3 linked regions of the Homo sapiens genome follow. The protein of the gene in region 1 purifies or fractionates together with the protein of each later gene. This does not show direct contact. Each region holds a gene or a part of one and is shown on either strand. Other genes may lie near its edges. The genes, in order: EREG, RAB4A and TMX4.

Region 1 (7,953 bases):
TATTATTAGAAACTTTTCTGAGTTTTTAAAAATTAGGTAGTAAATAGTAGCTTTTAAATTGCACACATATGTCAGAGGTGCAGAGCAGGGAGGACTTCTGATGCTTCTCACACTTGCCAAGATGGTGTCTCTCTGCTTTGGATCTTTTCCTTCAATTTCTATATCAGGTATTGTTTTAAGAATTGATTCCAGGCCGGACGCGTTGGCTCATGCCTGTAATCCCAGCACTTTGGGAGGCCGAGGCGGGCGGATCACGGGGTCAGGAGATCAAGACCATCCTGGCGAACACGGTGAAACCCCGTCTCTACTAAAAATACAAAAAAAAAAAAAAATTAGCCAGGGGTAGTGGCGGACGCCTGAAGTCCCAGCTACTCGGGAGGCTGAGGCAGGAGAATGGCATGAACCCGGGGGGTGGAGCTTGCAGTGAGCGGAGATCATGCCACTGTACTCCAGCCTGGGCAACACAGCGAGACTCCGTCTCAAAAAAAAAAAAAAAAAAAAAAAAAAGAATTGATTCCAGGCCAGGCGCAGTGGCTCAACCCTGTAACCCCAGCACTTTGGGAGGCTGAGGCGGGCAGACCACTTGAGGTCAGGAGTTCCTGACCAGCCTGGCCAACATGGTGAAACCCCGCCTCTACTAAAAATACAAAAATTAGCGAGGCGTGGTGGCGCAAGACTGTAGTCTACTCAGGAGGCTGAGATAGGAGAATTGCTTGAACCTGGGAGGCGGAGGTTGCAGTGAGCCGAGAGATCACACCACTGCTATCCAGCCTGGGCGACAGAACGAGACTCCATCTCAAAAAAACCAAACAGACAAACAAACAAAAAAAGAATTGATTCCACTGATTTAGACAAAAGGAATCTCAAACCTGTACAACTTACAAAACACCACTGTGGACTGTCAGCCACCATGACAGCTGAACACAACCGTCATTTTAATACTACAATTTAGTCCAAGAGCTACGTGGAGCCCTTTTATCATTACTGGTCTAACTCAATCTTTGAAATCCTCTTTACAATCTTTAGCAAATTTTGTTGATTTCTTGCATTACAGTGTGATGTTAGTCCTTATAAAACTAATTCATAACCATGATTTCCTTTTTAAGTAACTGATCTTTCTTTCTTCCGTATTTTCCTTCAGGTGTGAAGTGGGTTATACTGGTGTCCGATGTGAACACTTCTTTTTAACCGTCCACCAACCTTTAAGCAAAGAATATGTGGCTTTGACCGTGATTCTTATTATTTTGTTTCTTATCACAGTCGTCGGTTCCACATATTATTTCTGCAGATGGTAAGTCAGTGTGGTTTTATACTCTGCTTTTACAAATTACTTTTACATAATGCAGACCTATAAACTGGGTAAAAATATGGATAAAGTATTAGAGAGATAAGATCAAACCTGTACAAATGATATTTACAAGAGTTGAGAAACTATTAAGTATTATGCCCAACACCTGAGTGATGGGATCAGCTGTACCCCTAATCTCAGCATCATACAATATATCCTGTTAAGAAACCTGCATGTGTACCCCCGAATCTGAAATAACTTGAAATTATTTTTTAAAAATATGTTTTTGCTGCAGAACATCTGGATTGAACTTTATTATCAGCTCTGATACTTATTACCTATGTGACCTTACATAAGTCAAATTGAGAGTATCAATTCCCTTCTTTATCAAATATGGACAGAAATTATTATCTTACATTAGTTATAGGGTGGTTGCTTTTAGTATGTAATATGATATTTCATGTGAAAGTAAATCATAGGATAGGTGCTACTGTTATAGTTAACCACCTGAATTTAATTCCTCAAGTCACATTTTTTATTTTATAAAAAACAACCTTGTAAATTAATAACCTTAGAAGCTTGGGTTATCTTACAGTTTAAGGCAGACTGGTGGAACTATTTCTAGACAATTATAAAAAATGGTTGTTAAAAAATAGTTTGTGTCAGTCCCCCAAAACAGTCGTACCTCATCCTCATGTGCATTATTGTCACAAGCTGAAAACAGAAAAATAGAAAGTGAACATTGAAAGTATAGTTTGGCATTTTTTTAAGGGTTAGGAGCAAAGGATGGGAACAGTGTGAATTAATTAATAACAGTTCCCTTTAAAATGTCTCCATGAAACATATTTTGAAACAGTTACAAATTACTCAAGGTGAATTTACGTTTTTATTTTTCTGTGAAAGTAGTGCACTTCCAATTTTGAAGGTCTGAAAGTGTGCTACTTTCATAATATTAAATTTATTTTGTCCACATTTGATTCTAAGTATCCATCAAATAATAATGCCTTCCTAATAAGTTGCCATGACAGAACTAAATATTATTAAAACTGAAATATGCCTGCAAATCTTTGACCACAATCCTTTCCTTTATAGATGGGGCACTGAGGTTTAGAGAGGTTCATTCAAATATCCCAGCTCATATAGTTGACAAATGCCAGAGTGAAGAACAAATTCTTTCTAATTCATATTCTTACAGTAAACATAGACATGATGTGGTTTCCTCAAAGCTACATGTCTTATTTCCAAAATAGGGACAAAATAAACTCAAAAATATTAGGAAAATAGCTTAATGAATAAATGAAAGAAGATTCTAAATTATGATAAATCTATGAATCCTAGCTATGAGACCTTGGACCTTGGGCACATTATATACAACCCATTTGTATTTCACTTTCTTCATCTGTAAGATGAGGATGGTAACAGCAAATGTGAGAGTAAAATAAATAATGCATGTATAGCACTTAGAAAATTGTAGGTCACCAAATTAGTGCCTGATAAATATTATTTTTATTTTGATTAGTGATAGCATTATATCAATGTGATGGAAAGAGTGTATTAATGTAGCATGATTTGTAAATATTCATTCCTTAGAAGGGAGGAAGGAAAAAGAAAGAGAGACAGAAAAAGAAAACCTAAAATTCAGACTTAAATGTGGCCACACGCCTCTTGGAATTTCACAATATTCATGATCACGTTAAAGACTTTGAGAAACTCTTTAAGTGTATTTTATCATTTCATTCCAAAATTGTTTGACTACAGCACATCACCTCTTCATCCCTCTTTTTTTTTTTTTTTTTAACATTGTCCAACCTAAATCTGTTCAACTTTGTCATTTTGGAAACACTATGCTAATGTGCCTTTGGAGTCCATATATAACACACTTGTTCCTTTGCTATTAACTGCAGTGCTAACAGTTTCGTTTGTGAATATTTCCAGGTACAGAAATCGAAAAAGTAAAGAACCAAAGAAGGAATATGAGAGAGTTACCTCAGGGGATCCAGAGTTGCCGCAAGTCTGAATGGCGCCATCAAACTTATGGGCAGGGATAACAGTGTGCCTGGTTAATATTAATATTCCCATTTTATTAATAATATTTATGTTGGGTCAAGTGTTAGGTCAATAACACTGTATTTTAATGTACTTGAAAAATGTTTTTATTTTTGTTTTATTTTTGACAGACTATTTGCTAATGTATAATGTGCAGAAAATATTTAATATCAAAAGAAAATTGATATTTTTATACAAGTAATTTCCTGAGCTAAATGCTTCATTGAAAGCTTCAAAGTTTATATGCCTGGTGCACAGTGCTTAGAAGTAAGCAATTCCCAGGTCATAGCTCAAGAATTGTTAGCAAATGACAGATTTCTGTAAGCCTATATATATAGTCAAATCGATTTAGTAAGTATGTTTTTTATGTTCCTCAAATCAGTGATAATTGGTTTGACTGTACCATGGTTTGATATGTAGTTGGCACCATGGTATCATATATTAAAACAATAATGCAATTAGAATTTGGGAGAAGCAAATATAGGTCCTGTGTTAAACACTACACATTTGAAACAAGCTAACCCTGGGGAGTCTATGGTCTCTTCACTCAGGTCTCAGCTATAATTCTGTTATATGAGGGGCAGTGGACAGTTCCCTATGCCAACTCACGACTCCTACAGGTACTAGTCACTCATCTACCAGATTCTGCCTATGTAAAATGAATTGAAAAACAATTTTCTGTAATCTTTTATTTAAGTAGTGGGCATTTCATAGCTTCACAATGTTCCTTTTTTGTATATTACAACATTTATGTGAGGTAATTATTGCTCAACAGACAATTAGAAAAAAGTCCACACTTGAAGCCTAAATTTGTGCTTTTTAAGAATATTTTTAGACTATTTCTTTTTATAGGGGCTTTGCTGAATTCTAACATTAAATCACAGCCCAAAATTTGATGGACTAATTATTATTTTAAAATATATGAAGACAATAATTCTACATGTTGTCTTAAGATGGAAATACAGTTATTTCATCTTTTATTCAAGGAAGTTTTAACTTTAATACAGCTCAGTAAATGGCTTCTTCTAGAATGTAAAGTTATGTATTTAAAGTTGTATCTTGACACAGGAAATGGGAAAAAACTTAAAAATTAATATGGTGTATTTTTCCAAATGAAAAATCTCAATTGAAAGCTTTTAAAATGTAGAAACTTAAACACACCTTCCTGTGGAGGCTGAGATGAAAACTAGGGCTCATTTTCCTGACATTTGTTTATTTTTTGGAAGAGACAAAGATTTCTTCTGCACTCTGAGCCCATAGGTCTCAGAGAGTTAATAGGAGTATTTTTGGGCTATTGCATAAGGAGCCACTGCTGCCACCACTTTTGGATTTTATGGGAGGCTCCTTCATCGAATGCTAAACCTTTGAGTAGAGTCTCCCTGGATCACATACCAGGTCAGGGAGGATCTGTTCTTCCTCTACGTTTATCCTGGCATGTGCTAGGGTAAACGAAGGCATAATAAGCCATGGCTGACCTCTGGAGCACCAGGTGCCAGGACTTGTCTCCATGTGTATCCATGCATTATATACCCTGGTGCAATCACACGACTGTCATCTAAAGTCCTGGCCCTGGCCCTTACTATTAGGAAAATAAACAGACAAAAACAAGTAAATATATATGGTCATATACATATTGTATATATATTCATATACAAACATGTATGTATACATGACCTTAATGGATCATAGAATTGCAGTCATTTGGTGCTCTGCTAACCATTTATATAAAACTTAAAAACAAGAGAAAAGAAAAATCAATTAGATCTAAACAGTTATTTCTGTTTCCTATTTAATACAGCTGAAGTCAAAATATGTAAGAACACATTTTAAATACTCTACTTACAGTTGGCCCTCTGTGGTTAGTTCCACATCTGTGGATTCAACCAACCAAGGACGGAAAATGCTTAAAAAATAATACAACAACAACAAAAAATACATTATAACAACTATTTACTTTTTTTTTTTTCTTTTTGAGATGGAGTCTCGCTCTGTTGCCCAGGTTGGAGTGCAGTGGCACGATCTCGGCTCACTGCAACCTCACCTCCCGGGTTCAAGAGATCCTCCTGCCTCAGCCTCCTGAGCAGCTGGGACTACAGGCGCATGCCACCATGCCCAGCTAATTTTTGTATTTTTAGTAGAGGCGGGGTTTCACCATGTTGGCCAGGATGGTCTCAATCTCCTAACCTTGAGATCCACCCTCCACAGCCTCCCAAACTGCTGGGATTACAGGTGTGAGCCACCGCACGTAGCATTTACATTAGGTATTACAAGTAATGTAAAGATGATTTAAGTATACAGGAGGATGTGAATAGGTTATATGCAAGCACTATGCCCTTTTATATAAGTGACTTGAACATCTGTGCCCGATTTTAGTATGTGCAGGGGGGCGATCTGGGAATCAGTCCCCTGTGGATACCAAGGTACAACTGTATTTATTAACGCTTACTAGATGTGAGGAGAGTCTGAATATTTTCAGTGATCTTGGCTGTTTCAAAAAAATCTATTGACTTTTCAATAAATCAGCTGCAATCCATTTATTTCATTTACAAAAGATTTATTGTAAGCATCTCAATCTTGGTTTGTCAGTTTATCTTAAGCATGTCAATTCATAAAAACAAGTCATTTTTGTATTTTTCATCTTTAAGAATGCTTAAAAAAGCTAATCCCTAAAATAGTTAGATCTTTGTAAATGCATATTAAATAATAAAGTATGACCCACATTACTTTTTATGGGTGAAAATAAGACAAAAATAATAGTTTTAGTGAGGATGGTGCTGAGTAAACATAAAAACTGATTTGCTCTCAGCTGATGTGTCCTGTACACAGTGGGAAGATTTTAGTTCACACTTAGTCTAACTCCCCCATTTTACAGATTTCTCACTATATATATTTCTAGAAGGGGCTATGCATATTCAATGTATTGAGAACCAAAGCAACCACAAATGCATAAATGCATAATTTATGGTCTTCAACCAAGGCCACATAATAACCCAGTTAACTTACTCTTTAACCAGGAATATTAAGTTCTATAACTAGTACTCAAGGTTTAACCTTAAAATTAAGATTTCCTTAACCTTAACCTTAAAATTGATATTATATTAAACATACATAATACAATGTAACTCCACTGTTCTCCTGAATATTTTTTGCTCTAATCTCTCTGCCGAAAGTCAAAGTGATGGGAGAATTGGTATACTGGTATGACTACGTCTTAAGTCAGATTTTTATTTATGAGTCTTTGAGACTAAATTCAATCACCACCAGGTATCAAATCAACTTTTATGCAGCAAATATATGATTCTAGTGTCTGACTTTTGTTAAATTCAGTAATGCAGTTTTTAAAAACCTGTATCTGACCCACTTTGTAATTTTTGCTCCAATATCCATTCTGTAGACTTTTGAAAAAAAAGTTTTTAATTTGATGCCCAATATATTCTGACCGTTAAAAAATTCTTGTTCATATGGGAGAAGGGGGAGTAATGACTTGTACAAACAGTATTTCTGGTGTATATTTTAATGTTTTTAAAAAGAGTAATTTCATTTAAATATCTGTTATTCAAATTTGATGATGTTAAATGTAATATAATGTATTTTCTTTTTATTTTGCACTCTGTAATTGCACTTTTTAAGTTTGAAGAGCCATTTTGGTAAACGGTTTTTATTAAAGATGCTATGGAACATAAAGTTGTATTGCATGCAATTTGAAGTAACTTATTTGACTATGAATGTTATCGGATTACTGAATTGTATCAATTTGTTTGTGTTCAATATCAGCTTTGATAATTGTGTACCTTAAGATATTGAAGGAGAAAATAGATAATTTACAAGATATTATTAATTTTTATTTATTTTTCTTGGGAATTGAAAAAAATTGAAATAAATAAAAATGCATTGAACATCTTGCATTCAAAATCTTCACTGACAATGCAGCCTCATTCTTTTTTTTTCTTTTGCAATTTTTTCCCCACAATACATTAAAGGGTTTAAAAGCAGTGACAGGGATATAATGTGTGTAGACATAATGACTCAATGGTGTTAATTTGGGAAAACATTCTATAAATGTATCACGTTTTATAGCCAGCATAGTGAAGAATTTCTTGTAATAGAAGGAGCCACATTAGTTATAAAATTCTAGGTGTTGGTATTTAAAAATCCTAGGAGTTAGGATTGATTGATTGATTGATTGATTGATTGATTTTGAGATGGAGTCTCACTCTATTGCCCAGGCAGGAATGCAGCGGCACGATCTCGGCTCACCACAACCTCCGCCTCCTGGGTTCAAGCGATTCTCCTGCCTCAGCCTCCCGGGTAGCTAGGACTACAGTCACGTGCCACCATGCCCGGCTAATTTTTGTATTTTTAGTAGAGACAGGGTTTCACCATGTTGGCCAGACTGGTCTCAAACTCATGACCTTGTGATCTTCCCGCCTCCGCCTCCCAAAGTGCTGGGATTACAGGCATGAGCCACCATGCCCAGCCTGGGGTTAGTATTTTTTAAAATAATATTTTAAAGAGTATTTTAAAAGAGTATTTCTAAAAAGAATAGATATCCTATTGGGAAGTAGCATTTGAAAAGATTCATCAGCCAGAATGGTGCCTTATGATTCTCTCAGCCTCTG
Region 2 (7,953 bases), on another chromosome or scaffold:
TGCGATATTCAATTTCAGCTTATCTGTTTATCATCACAGAAATGTTCTTTCATAGGCAGTGTATTCCCGCTGGGTTTAGCAAAATACTTATTTTGCCTGTCTCCTGCCCATTCAAATAGTACTAATTTCTCCAACAAATTCATCCCAAATCATTTCCATAGAACACTACGATTAATGAAATCTCAAACACCTGTAGCTTGCATAGGGTTTTGTTTTGGGGTTTATTGGAGGGTGTATTGTTTTGGGGTTTGTTGGAGGGTGTTTTATTTTGGGGTTTTTTGGAGGGTGCTTTGTTTTGGGGTTTTTTGGAGGGTGTTTTTTCTTTGGTTCAATTTTTTTCCTCCTTTTCCCTTTTCCTCTGCTTTTCCTTCCACTCACTGTTATTTCTTTAAAATATTTAACCATTCAAATACAGTAGTTGAAACTGTCTCCACCTCATTACTTACTGAGTTCCACACCTGTCACTGGGCGTTATGCCCTTCAGAATGGTACGCTGGTATGTCAGCAGTCACCATCTGTGAGCATCTTAACAGTGCACAGTTGGATGTGGTTCGGATATGGCAGGGCTACTTTCAGGCATAGGTTTTTAAATGTATCATTTGTTTGGGGGTTTTGAGAAAAATCTTTATGTCTCTTTGAGAATAGGGGCTGTGTGTATTATCTTTAAAACTAAATGCATCTTCTCAATGGAATGTTGGAGAAATGAATGGCTAGAGTAATGTCCATTCCCCATTGATGTAACTCTTGGTTTTAGTGTCACTTGTTTAAATCTATAAGCCTGTTAATGTTCTAAAATTAAATATGCTGTTCTTGTTTTTCTTTTTTAGTCAAAGATGACTCAAATCATACAATAGGAGTGGAATTTGGTTCAAAGATAATAAATGTTGGTGGTAAATATGTAAAGTTACAAATATGGGATACAGCAGGACAAGAACGATTCAGGTAGCTTTTCTCTAACTTAATAAAAATATTTGAAAATTTGATTTAAAATAATTGATGATATTCTCTCAATATATAAGGTCTCACTCCCTCCCCAACACACCCCTTCCTTGTCCTAATCTCAGAAACTTCATTTTTGGAAACTTTGATTGACAAGACAGCTAAAATTTAGGTTAGCTCTCTGCAGCATGGATTACTAAAGAATACAGGAGGATCTCCGCGCAACTGCATTATAATTCGGAGGCTGACCCATTCTCAGGAGGATGTGGCACTGTGTATTGTACAGTATGTTTCTAGATTCAAATCAAAGCACAAGCTTGTTTTTCTGTGTTCCTTTTTTAAAGAAGAACTTTTTAAAACCTTGTGAGGGTTTGTTTTGTTTTACATTAACTAGAGCATGTTCTGATGTTTGATACACACTCCACAAAATATTCTCTCCACACTTTAATTACAATAGGGTCATAACTGAGGCTCAGAATGACTTCAGTCACTGCAAATGAGGTTACATGTTTAGTATTCTGTAACTACTAAAGCAAGAAAATAGATTAATATTTTAGTTGTGGTTTTTGCACAGATGCACAAAGTCAGAACTGATATTCATAGTTTTATAATTCAGTGAAATAAAATCCACCCCATTTGTAAACATTTCACTTGAAGTTGAGTACATGTCGTATATTAAATAATTGAAGTTTGGCTGGGCACAATGGCGCATGCCTGTAATCCCAGCACTTTGGGAGGCCGAGGCAGACCTCCTCACCTGAGGTCAGGAGTTCAAGACCAGCCTGGCCAACATGGTGTAACCCCTTCTCTACTAAAAATAAAAAAATTAGCCGGGCGTGGTGGCAGGTGCCTGTAATCCCAGCTACTCTGGAGGCTGAGGCAGGAAAATCGCTTGAACCCGGGAGGTGGAGGTTGCAGTGAGCTGAGATCACGCCATTGTACTCCAGCCTGGGCAACAAGAGCAAAACTCCATCTCAAAAATTAATTAAGTAATTGAAGTTCAATAATTGCTTCAAAAATACCATAACCACCTTTAATCACCATCATTTTTCTGGAAGCATTGATTAAACATGGTGGATTCAATTAGACATTTATGTCTTCCCTCTCAGAACCCCACTGAAATGTCTGTTAAGTAACTGAAATTGAAGTAACTCAAAAAGGCCAAGATTGAGTGAGTGCACAATTATGATTGAGAGATTTCCAAAAAAATCTTAAAGATAGGAAGTAGATGGTGCTCTGACAGCAGAAGGAGCTCCACCTTAAGTACTGTAATGGGGGAAGCCATTTCTTCCTCTGGAGTCCCAGAAAAGGTCAGGATTTGGAAGCATCAGGTTCTACAGGAGGTAGAGGTTACAGAGGTTCATGTTTACACACGAAATAAGAGGTTCAGTCTTTTACGTTGAAATGGAGTCTAGACTCAAGGTCATAAGGCCCACCTGAGGGCATGGGGTCAGGCCTGAAAAGAGGGAAATTAAGTGAAAATGAAAGCCTCTGGCCCCCAACCCACCTCCCCTACCTCTTCCCTGGTCGCTGGCAGCCAGGTGTGTATGTCCCACATAGGAGAAAGGAGCCTTCTCTGCAGAAAAATGAATAGTCAGAAAGGAAAGGCTTGAAGGTAGTGACATTTTGCTTTCCCAGTCAAACAGCCCAGTCTCTATCCAGTCATCTGAAAGTGAAACCCTCCAAGCCCACCTGCTCCACCCACACATAAAGAGCTTCTTTTAGACTTTTTCATTCCTTGCTCTTAATGATCAGGCAGAATTTTGAAGAAAGTTTCTATAGCAAAAGAGAGAGCTCAAAGTAAAGAAGCTGGAACTTTGAGGGAGTAAGAAAAACACACTAAAACCACAGTATCCTTAGGAAGAAGAGCAGAGATTGCATTGGAGTATGTAATAGAAACAAAGTCATACTTAAAAAGAGCAATCAGAATAATATGTTAAATAAACTCATGGTGAAAAATGGGAGAGATGACATAAAGAATCCTCCAGAATTAATCCAGAAGATGCAATGACTATTAGGAGTTCCAGAAGAGAGAAGAGCAGAGAGAATAATAGAAGAAAATGTTTCACTGAAGGAATGAGATTCCAGATTAATTGGCCCACCTAAAATCAAACATAGTAAGGAAAAAGTCCAGACCAGAGCGTGCCATGTGAAATTTCAGAACACCACAGATGAAGTAAGGAAGACCAGAAAGGTTCCAAGAGGGAAAAAGCAGCCACATATAAAGTGTGAAAAATGGAATTGCTTTGCACCCTTCCACAGCAACATTGGAAGCTAAAAGAAATGGAAGCATTGCCTTCAAAACTCAGGGTGAAATAATTCTTCAACCTAAAATTCTAAACTTAGCCAAACTGTAAGTGTGCAAGTAAAGGCTGAATACCAACAGATGTGCAAGAAAGAGGAGGAAGCCAAGATTATCTTTCTCAGAGACTTCTTAGAAATGTACTTTCTTAGAAAGTTTAGGAGGATATACTTCACCAGGACAAGGGCATGATCCCAGAAAGAGGAAAATGAAGCCAGCAGGAAGATCCAGCTCAGAATGGCACAGGTCTAGAGGGACAGTGAGGGAAGACTAAGACAGCAGTCAGTATGTGATGGCACTGCCCTTCCAGGAGGACCAGGGGAACAAGTGAGGGGCTCTGTAAGAGCTCACGACTCTGTCAGAGCGGGGAAGAAACAGCTCTGAAATTCAGTTTCCTAAACCTTTTGTAGAAATGAGAAGAAAGAAACTGTAAGATCCATGAGTGTAAGGGTTTTTGAGTTTTCTGTTTGTTTCCCCTGTGCCCAGAATAGTGTCTAGCACACAGGGGCGCAGTATGTGCTCTTTTAATGACTTAATTAAAGGAAACCCAGTTACCAGAAAGAGAGAACTCACCTCGCTTGTGGAGAGTAGGGCTCCCAGAGAGGAGTGAGGCAGGAGATGGCTGTGTTTAATTTAGAGACTTTTCGTGACATTTCACTTTAAAACTATCCACATGTATTATATTGGTTAAATTACTTTTGTAAGAAAATGTGGCACATATACACCATGGAATACTATGCAGCCATAAAAAATGATGAGTTCGTGTCCTTTGTAGGGACATGGATGAAATTGGAAATCATCATTCTCAGTAAACTATCGCAAGAACAAAAAACCAAACACTGCATATTCTCACTCATAGGTGGGAATTGAATAATGAGAACACATGGACACAGGAAGGGGAACATCACACTCTGGGGACTGTTGTGGGGTGGGGGGAGGGGGGAGGGATAGCAATGGGAGATATACCTAATGCTAGATGACGAGTTAGCGGTTGCAGCACACCAGCATGGCACATGTATACATACATATGTAACCTGCACATTGTGCACAGGTACCCTAAAACTTAAAGTATAATAATAATAAATAAATAAAAGGAAAAAAAAAAGAAAATTTAACACCTCAAAGTAGTATTCTTAAATGTGTATATTTGTATACTGGAGTAATTTGTATAAGAAACTATTTGTCAAGACAGTGTTGTAAAATAAATTTGAAAGTAAAATTTTAAGAAGTAGATGTGATACAGCTTATCTTGAAGAGAACTCGTAGTTCCCTCTTCCTCTAGAAGCTAGGTGCCTGCTGAGCAAGAATAGAAAGGCGCTGCCTCTTAATAGATGTGAACAAGCGAGGCCTTTCCCCCTGCCTTAGGAGGCTGTGGGGTGAAGAGCAAACAGTCCACTCTGCACCTCTACCTGCCACCAGTCCTTAAAGCGTGTGCCTCTTGCTAACAGTCTCAAGGCAGAGAGGAAAAGCTTCAAGCTACATGAAGACCTTGAAGCTTCCTGACTAAGAGCTAAAAAGTACATTTAAAAGTAGCTCTTCTTTGCCAAGCAGCAAAGTAATAATTAGTAATTTTGTTTGTTTGTTTGTTGCAAGCTGCACGGGTTTCTTTGTTCTCCAAGGATAGTTCATTCCTCTGGTGTCTTTTTTTTTCTGACATCAAGTCTATGGGGTTTTTCTTCACACCAGCCAGTCGGATTCTCTGACACCAGCTGGGTGTCCAACACTTCAATTCACTTTTGACACTACCCAGAGTTAAAGGGGACCCTCCAGGCTAAGGAGACCTAGACTGCCACCCCCGCTTCAGACACCAGTCACAACTGGAGTGCCCAGGCTTCCTGCACTTCTTGGCCAAATACAGATCTGGCAGTTCCCACACCCTCCATCCCTCACATCCCCATCAGGTTGGAGAATTTGTTAGAATGATTCACACAACTCAGGAAAAACATTTTTCCTGGCATTTACTGGTTTGTTAGATAGGTGTCAATTCAGGCACAGCCTGGTGGAGGAGATGCTTAGGAGACGAGGTATGGGGATGGGCCACCTCCCAGCACCTCCATGCCACCACCAGCCCAGGAGCTCTCTGACCCCCATCCTTTTGGTTTTTTTGTGGAGGTTTTATTACAAAGGCACGATTGATTAAAACATTATCCATTGATGATTGACTCAATCTCCAGCTCCTCTTTCCTCCCCAGAGGGCTGAGGTGAGGCTATAAGTTCCAGCACTCTCCTCACTCGGTGAGGGCTCCCACGGCCACAGCCCCGATCCCAAGGCTCTCTAGCCTGCTACTCTTCCCACAGTTATCTCCTTGGCTTACAAAAGACACCTTTATCACTAAGGAAATCACAGGGGTTTGGGCCTCTGTGCCAGGAACCTGGGACGAAGACCAAATATATATTTTTTAATTTAATTAGGCCACAGTTAAGTTCTGGGAATGTCTAGCTAGCAGTGGTCCAGGCCCTGTGCTAGGCACTGGGATCCTCTGGTGAGTGAGACAGCAGAGCCCTGCCCCATGGAGGGGAGGCAGGCAGCCAACACAGAGACAGAGACAGAAAGAGCATCCCACCAAGTGGGATGGTGCCACCCAGGAGACAGCACGCTGAGATAGAGGGGGTCCACTGGATGGGGATGCTTGGGGAACGTTGCTGAGGAGATAGAGTTAATGAGACCCAAGGGACAAGGAAAGCCAGCGGTGTGACGAGCCCAGACGGGAGTGGCAGGGGCTGGGAGCAGGGAAGAGAATGGGGCCAAAGGGACAGGTACAGTGACGGAGATGTCCTGTCCTGGGCCTTGATGAGTTGGGCTGCTCTGAAGAATGGACTGTGGGCCACACATGGCAGCAGGGACAGCAGCGTGGGCAGACACAGGATTTGTGTAGTGTAGGAGACTGCACTAGGCTGGCGGAGTGAATGTGGAGGTGCACAGGAATTGAGGATGAATGTGGAGCTGATTTGCTTTAGAAACAGGGTGCGTGGTGATGCCTCTTCCTAGGCCAGGACGGGCCTGGAGGGTGGGACCAAAAAGAGTCCTGCTGTGCAGATGTTAAGTTTGACATGTTTATCAGGCAGTCTCATGGAGATATGGAGGCAGCACTTGGATCTGAGCTGGAGACAAAATTTGAGTCGAATGTTAAGAGAGCCCAGGACCCAGCTCTGGGGAATCGCAATCCCAGCAGGGCAGATTCAGAAGAATGACCAGAGCCAGAGAAGTGGCTGGTGAGCGGGAGGAAGACTAGCAGAGTGCAGGGCGCAGAGGCTGCGCGAGTGAGTGAGGACAGAAATGCCCACTCCAGCTTCGGTTGCAGAGAGGGTGGGGACCTTGACAGGCTTTTGGGGAGTAGCAGAGATGGACACTAGGTTGGCGGTGAAGAAGAGGAAGCTGCAGGTAAAGACAGCTCTTTCAGAAAGTTGGATGTGGGGCCACGCGTGGTGGCTCACGCCTGTAATCCCAGCACTTTGGGAGGCCGAGGCGGGTGGATCATCCGAGGTCAAGAGTTCGAGACCAGCCTGGCTAACATGGGGAAACCCCGTCTGTACTAAAAATACAAAAATTAGCCAGGCGTGGTGGCGGGTGCAGCTACTCAGGAGGCTGAGGCAGGAGAATTGCTTGAACCTGGGAGGCAGAGGTTGCAGAGAGCTGAGATCGCGCCATTGCACTCTAGCCTGGGTAACGAGCGAAACTCTGTCTCAAAAAAGACAGTTGGATGTGGAGAAGAGCAGACAGTGGGACAGTAACTGAAAAGATGGTGCAGCATATTTCTGTTTTGTGTTTTAAGATGGGCGGTACCAGAGCCAATTTATTTTTATTTTGCTAATAGGAAAAATCCTGAACTCCTGGCTTTTTTTTTTTTTTCTTTCTGTTGCCTGGGCTGGAGTGCAGTGGCATGATCGCTCACCGTCACCTCAAATTCCTGGGATCAAACAGTCCTTCTGTCTCAGCCTCCTGAGTAGCTGGGATTACAGGTGTGTACTGCCATACCTGGCTAATTTTTTGTAGAGACAGGGTCTCTCTCTCTTACCCAGGCTGGTCTCAAACTCCTGGCCTCAAGCAGTCCTCCCTCCTGGGCCTCCTAAAGTGCTGGGATTATAGGTGTCCGGCCACTAATGGGAAAAATCTCACAAAGAGGGTGAGATTGACAATGTAGGGGAAAACATGTATGACCAAAAGACGCCTTCTTGAATGTGAGAGTGGATATGACATACTGGGACACTCAGTTTTCCCGTAGTAATAGGGCAGGGATGCAGGTGGGTGTAGGGCCGTGGTGACTATGGATTCCTGTGGTGACTATGGATTCCACCGCGCCGAGAGGTGGCGAGAACTGGAAGAGATGGAGAAAATTGTGCCAGGGAGTGGGGTAGATGAGGAGCTCGCAGAGAAGTGAGTGGATTGCTGAGCCCCTTAGTGTCCATCTAGGGGGTGGTGCTGGCTTCCGCAGACAGCTCACCCTGCTAGGAGTTCTCAAAGGAGACATCCATCAGAGAGCTGCATCCGCTGTGAAGGAATCTCCTACTTGCCACAGTGATGTGATTTCAGGCAGAATAACCCCTCACATGTATGTTCAAATATCTTTGAATCATTTCTCTTTTAAACCAGTGTCTGTCCCTGTGTTGTGGTTTACAAAGCAAGCATGGGTGTTTTTTCATGGGAAAGTGGGATACAGTAAAGGGTCTCAATTGGTTGAAAGTAAAACCAGTATAATTCTTCCAGGTCCGTG
Region 3 (5,869 bases), on another chromosome or scaffold:
GTGTGACAATCAGGATATAGAAAAACAAACGTAGTGTTGGGATCTGTTTGGAGACTGGGATGGGAACAAGTTCATTTACTTAGGGGTCAGAGAGTCTCGACCAGAGGAGGCCATTCCCAGTCCTAATCAGCACCTTCCAGAGACAAGGCTGCAGGCCCTGTGAAATGAAAGCCAAGCAGGAGCCTTGGCTCCTGAGCATCCCCAAAGTGTAACGTAGAAGCCTTGCATCCTTTTCTTGTGTAAAGTATTTATTTTTGTCAAATTGCAGGAAACATCAGGCACCACAGTGCATGAAAAATCTTTCACAGCTAGAAATTGAAAGGGCCTTGGGTATAGAGAGCAGCTCAGAAGTCATCCCAGCCCTCTGAATCTCCTGTGCTATGTTTTATTTCTTACCTTTAATTTTTCCAGCATTTCCACCATGGGCATTCAGGCTCTCCACACTCTTCACTATTATCTCTTGGTCAGAGGACTCCAATAACAGCCAGGTTTACATGAACTGTGTTTGTTCATTCTGACCTAAGGGGTTTAGATAATCAGTAACCATAACCCCTGAAGCTGTGACTGCCAAACATCTCAAATGAAATGTTGTGGCCATCAGAGACTCAAAAGGAAGTAAGGATTTTACAAGACAGATTAAAAAAAAATTGTTTTGTCCAAAATATAGTTGTTGTTGATTTTTTTTTAAGTTTTCTAAGCAATATTTTTCAAGCCAGAAGTCCTCTAAGTCTTGCCAGTACAAGGTAGTCTTGTGAAGAAAAGTTGAATACTGTTTTGTTTTCATCTCAAGGGGTTCCCTGGGTCTTGAACTACTTTAATAATAACTAAAAAACCACTTCTGATTTTCCTTCAGTGATGTGCTTTTGGTGAAAGAATTAATGAACTCCAGTACCTGAAAGTGAAAGATTTGATTTTGTTTCCATCTTCTGTAATCTTCCAAAGAATTATATCTTTGTAAATCTCTCAATACTCAATCTACTGTAAGTACCCAGGGAGGCTAATTTCCTTAAAAAAAAAAAATCTATCCATCTACTTCTCTCTTACCTGATTTATGTGTTAGAATAAATTCATGAAATTCGATTCCAAGCATACGAAAGATGCCTAAAGTTGATTCTATGCTCCTTAGATCCAGACAGAATAATGAGTACAGGTTTATGAAATTCTAAAAGTTTCTGTCGTCTTTAAAAAGGAACGTGCAGTATATTTCTATCTGGCTGTTTAGATAACCCTTTCCTTGTATTAATTGTGAGCACGGAGCTCACTGGTGGGGGAGGTTCTGAAACTCTCTGCCCTCCTGTGGTTGAATGAAGATGTTGCAAGACTTGCACAAAGGAGGTTATTCTTCTGACAGCATCAACTTTTAGAGATGGTTCTTTTTCATCTTTCCAATTCAGTTACTTGACAGTCTCCTTCCCCAGTATGCTGAAGTTTGTTAAGAGTCACCAGTAATTGTGCTTTTCAGACAGTAGTGCAGCTTCAAAATCGAGGCCATCACTGGGCTGATGGGCTGGGAGAACCTTGCCATGTGCCTGCCTGTTTCCTGCCCCCTTAGTCACTGCCCATTTCCTGCCCCCTTGGTCGCTGACACACCTTCACCCAAAGTGCCATGGTTCTGATGGTGGCAGTTCCATCTCCCTGACATCAGGAAGCTTTTCTCGATCAGAGCAGAGCGGGGCCTGCCTGCCCTCGTGTCACTGGATTTCTTTCTCTTATAATCAGCTGAAACAGAGTTCTCAAAGAACAGTAAACTCAGGTTCAGAGGTATTATGGAATAAGAATGGTTTCATAGTTTGGCTTTTCTATATAATTCCTCCCTCTCAAACTGAAATATTCATTTTTTTAGTGGAGTATTTGACTAGAGAGAAGGTAAGGCAGAAATACAGTCTACACTGGCTTTTAAAAATGTAAAGCCAATTTCCAACCGGACCCCAAATAGTACAGGTTGAACATTCCGTTCCAACAATCCAAAACCCCAAATGCTCCAAAATCTTAAACTTTGAGTTCCAGCATTCCGTCAGAAGTGGAAAATTTTACACCTGACCTCATTTGACAGGTGGCAGTTACAGTGCAATCAAAACTTTGTTCCATGCCCAAGATTATTAAAAATATTGGATAAAATTACCTTCAAGCTATGTTGTATAAGGTGTATATAAAACAAATGAATTTTGTGTTTAGACTTGGGTCTACTCCCAAGATACCTCATTATATATATACAAAAATCCCCAAATCCAAAAACATTTGAAACACTTCTGGTCCCACACATTTTGGATAAGGGATATTTGACCTATATCTAATTATATAATAAGAAAAATGTATTTTCTTTTTTTTTTTTTTTTGAGATGGAGTTTCACTCTTGTTGTCGCCCAGGCTGCAATGGCACAATCTTGGCTTACTACAACCTCCGCCTCCCTAGTTCAAGGGATTCTCCTGCCTCAGCCTCCCAGGTAGCTGGGATTACAGGCATGTGCCACCATGCCTGGCTAATTTTGTATTTTTAGTAGAGACGGGGTTTCGCCATGTTGGTCAGACTGGTCTTGAACTCCTGACCTCAGGTGATCCGCCCGCCTCAGCCTCCCAACGTGCTGGGATTACAGGTGTGAGCCACCGTACCTGGCAGAAAATGTACTTTCTTTCTCAGAAATACTTTTAAAAAAAATTGAAGGGTGAGGAGAAAAACATCTTGGAGAAGAGGACCCATTAAAACTTTAAATATCTGTGGGAACCATTTTTCCTGATTTTCCCTTTTTTAACATCATGGCAAAGATGGGTTTTTTTCCAACAAAATTTAATTTAATATCTTTCCACTTGAAGATTTTAGGTTTGTTTTCAATACTTAATGAATATAAAACTAAAGGAGAAAAGCCAACCTGAAATAATTTAAACTTTATATGAACATTTCGATAAGAGTTTGTGGATTTTTTCTGTAGATAATATATTTGATCCGGAACTCAAGTGCATGGAAACATGATTTTGATTTTTAAAATCTAAAAAAAAAAAAAATTAAAATCATGCTTCCCTCTATTGCAGTATCAGTTATTTAGTCACAGAATGGTATTTTATGTAAATTAAAATTAGGTGAATGCAATGCAGGTAACTGGTTTTGGAATGGGAATGTGCAGTGCTTTATGTTTGGGGAGTTGGAGCAGGGTATCTTTTCATCAATTAGAAGGAAAGTTTGAAACTTCTGATTACCTTTATGTTGGTTTCTCTTATTATTTGTCTCTTGCTAGATCTGCTAAACCAACCCAGCTTGCTCAGAGATCTCATATTGAAGCAACATACAGGCAATCCACATCTTTCTTTCCCTTTGAAGTATAGTCATTGGATGGGATGAGGGACAGGGCCTGTTGGGTTCACAGGGCCTTGCACTGCATGGGCACATACTTAAAAGCTCTTGTGCATGGAATCCCTGTCTGTTAGCCACAGGCCTCTTTAGCTCTATACATTCAAAATAACTACTGTAGTAGAAAATAGATAAGCTTCAGCTGAGTTGGCTTTTGATAGTGGAAAAAAAACAAAATTTGACTTTTTATGGCCAAAATTCCTTGTTGACAGCTGTGATGTTCTAATATGATTTGGGAATATGTCAGTCTACAGAACCTGCATCCTGTAAAAACACCTTTGGGGTAGACGATAAAAGTCATTTTTAAGGCAAATACTTACCATGTGACTTTTTATTACCAAATGCATCAGTAGTGGAGCTGGTATGTTGTTTCATAGGATGGAAACATTAGAAGTCCAGAGAAAAATAAATTTTAAAAAAAGGTGGAAAAGTTACGGCAAACCTGAGATTTCAGCATAAAATCTTTAGTATGAAGTGAGAGAAAGAAGAGGGAGGCTGGTTCTGTTGCTCGTATCAATAGGTTATCTGTGTCCCTCATCTTGGTGTTACAGTGTTATTTCTGTCAGTATTATGAATATGTGGTTGACCCATCCTGTCAAATGTACCAACATTTTCGAAAGAATTCATTCAAATCTCTTATGCCAACAGAAAAGTTCCTTCTTGTTTAATATCTCTTTACCTCAGTCCTACATTTTGATTCTCTGGAGGAGATTTTAGCTTGTCTTAAAAAGCCAAATTTGGAGTCATCAAGCCTGCTGAACCTGATGGGGCAGCTTTTTGAACAGCTTTCTGGAAGTAAGAACTTCAGTTGAAAAGCCCTTTGATCGCTTCAGCCCGGGACATGCCCTTCAGATGGCTTATTCTCAGTAAAGCTTTATGTAGACTGTGACACTGTATATGTGTGACTCGTACAACTTTGACGTGTTTCTGAAGTGGTTTAATCGTATTTGTTATTAGCTTCTTTGTGGAAATGCAATTTTTATACTAAAAACATTGCTTATTTGCAATGCAATATGTTATAAATTTGTTGTTTATATTACTGGTATTAGTCTTAGCCTAATGAACCTAATTATTTTTCTTTCTGTATTCTTTGCTTCCTCAAATAGCATCTGCAGCAATTGGAATGAGAAATCCAGATATGTGTTTCAAGTAGTACATTGCCTGAATCACAAATCACTTGATCACAGTATTGTATATAATCCCTGATCCTATTTGTTTCATTTTATTGTAAATTCCCATTTGCATCAAAACCTAATGATAGTGATTGGTAAGTAAAAACAAATGGTGTATTGCTTTTCATACAAGTGTTTTCACAAAAGCCATTTGCCTAGGCAGCAAAAAATATTAATTTGTTAAAAAAAATTTTCCTTCGTGTCCATCCTCCATCTAGTCTGTTCATTCATTCTCTCTCTTTCTCCCTTCCTGACTCGGTGAAACTCAGACCATGTGCCCTTTAGTTGCTCTGGAAAGTGCACAAAACCAAGGCAGGGTCCAAAGATCCAAGGCTCTTCCAGCCAGTGTGTTGCCATCAGAAACCTCTGGGGTCTCCCTCTGTCCTGAGGTCTTGGGGTAGCCAGATGGCAAGGGATGCTACTAATCCCCCAAGACACTGTGGATTGGTCTTGTCTTTGGGGCTTTCAGAAAACTCCCTTCTACACCTAACTCTCCCCACCACTATAGTGGAAAAGCATCAAGGTGGTAAGGTGGGTCCTTGAAACACCCTCAGAGACTGAAACAATGGAGATTGGATTTTTGTCTTTTGGAAGATGGTGGGGGATGTGTGTAGTGAGAAGACAGTTACTAAACCTGCATACCACCAAGGCCCTCCCTCAGAGATACTGGCTCAGAATGCTTATTTGCCTATACAGAGAAAAATGTCTGTCGTGCTGTCTGCCTAGATGACTTTGGTTATTCATCCTTGCCTATAGCAAAATGCAGCTTTCAAGCCAACAACACTGAATTACAAATTTAACCCCCTGCTTTGCTCTAGTCTTGAATGCTCTTTGGAACATATTTCACAGTAATAGAAATTCTTTCTTGGAACATGTGAGCTTCTTGAGATTGATAACTGTATTACGACAGTCCAGCCTGTGCTAACAGACCCGCAAATCTCGGGGGCTTTAAGAACAAGAATTGTATTACTGATTCACATAGCCCAGGCCAGGCATCCCAGGCAGGCTCTGTCCCATGCAGGTTTTTCTGGGCCTCAAGGTCAAGGGAGGCTTTGCTGTTTAACATGTGGCTGCTGGGCCGGGCATGGTGGCTCACGCCTGTAATCCCAGCACTTTGGGAGGCCGAGGGAGGTGGATCACCTGAGATCAAGAGTTTGAGACCAGCCTTAGTAACATGGCGAAACCCTGTCTCTACTAAAAATACAAAAATAAGCCAGGCGTAATGGCAGGTGCGTATAATCCCAGCTACTCAGGAGGCTGAGGCAGGAGAATTAATTGAACTCGGGAGGCAGAGATTACAGTGAGCCGAGATCATGCCTTTGCACTCCAGCCTTGGCAACAGTGCGAGACTCCA

What was found.
Region 2: the proteins of EREG (region 1) and RAB4A purify together in Homo sapiens (affinity purification with mass spectrometry; 3 studies listed by BioGRID and IntAct, with this or other methods). This does not show direct contact.
Region 3: the proteins of EREG (region 1) and TMX4 purify together in Homo sapiens (affinity purification with mass spectrometry; 3 studies listed by BioGRID and IntAct, with this or other methods). This does not show direct contact.

The regions. Positions count from the first base shown.
Region 1 is NC_000004.12:74,381,504-74,389,456, forward strand, and holds the end of EREG (proepiregulin preproprotein), read left to right. Parts: intron 1-1,141; coding exon 1,142-1,291; intron 1,292-3,223; coding exon 3,224-3,305; 3' UTR 3,306-7,246; downstream 7,247-7,953. UniProt on the Homo sapiens protein: Ligand of the EGF receptor/EGFR and ERBB4. Stimulates EGFR and ERBB4 tyrosine phosphorylation.
Region 2 is NC_000001.11:229,287,902-229,295,854, forward strand, and holds part of RAB4A (ras-related protein Rab-4A), read left to right. Parts: intron 1-827; coding exon 828-942; intron 943-7,946; coding exon 7,947-7,953. UniProt on the Homo sapiens protein: The small GTPases Rab are key regulators of intracellular membrane trafficking, from the formation of transport vesicles to their fusion with membranes.
Region 3 is NC_000020.11:7,976,205-7,982,073, reverse strand, and holds the end of TMX4 (thioredoxin-related transmembrane protein 4 precursor), read left to right. Parts: 3' UTR 1-4,728; downstream 4,729-5,869.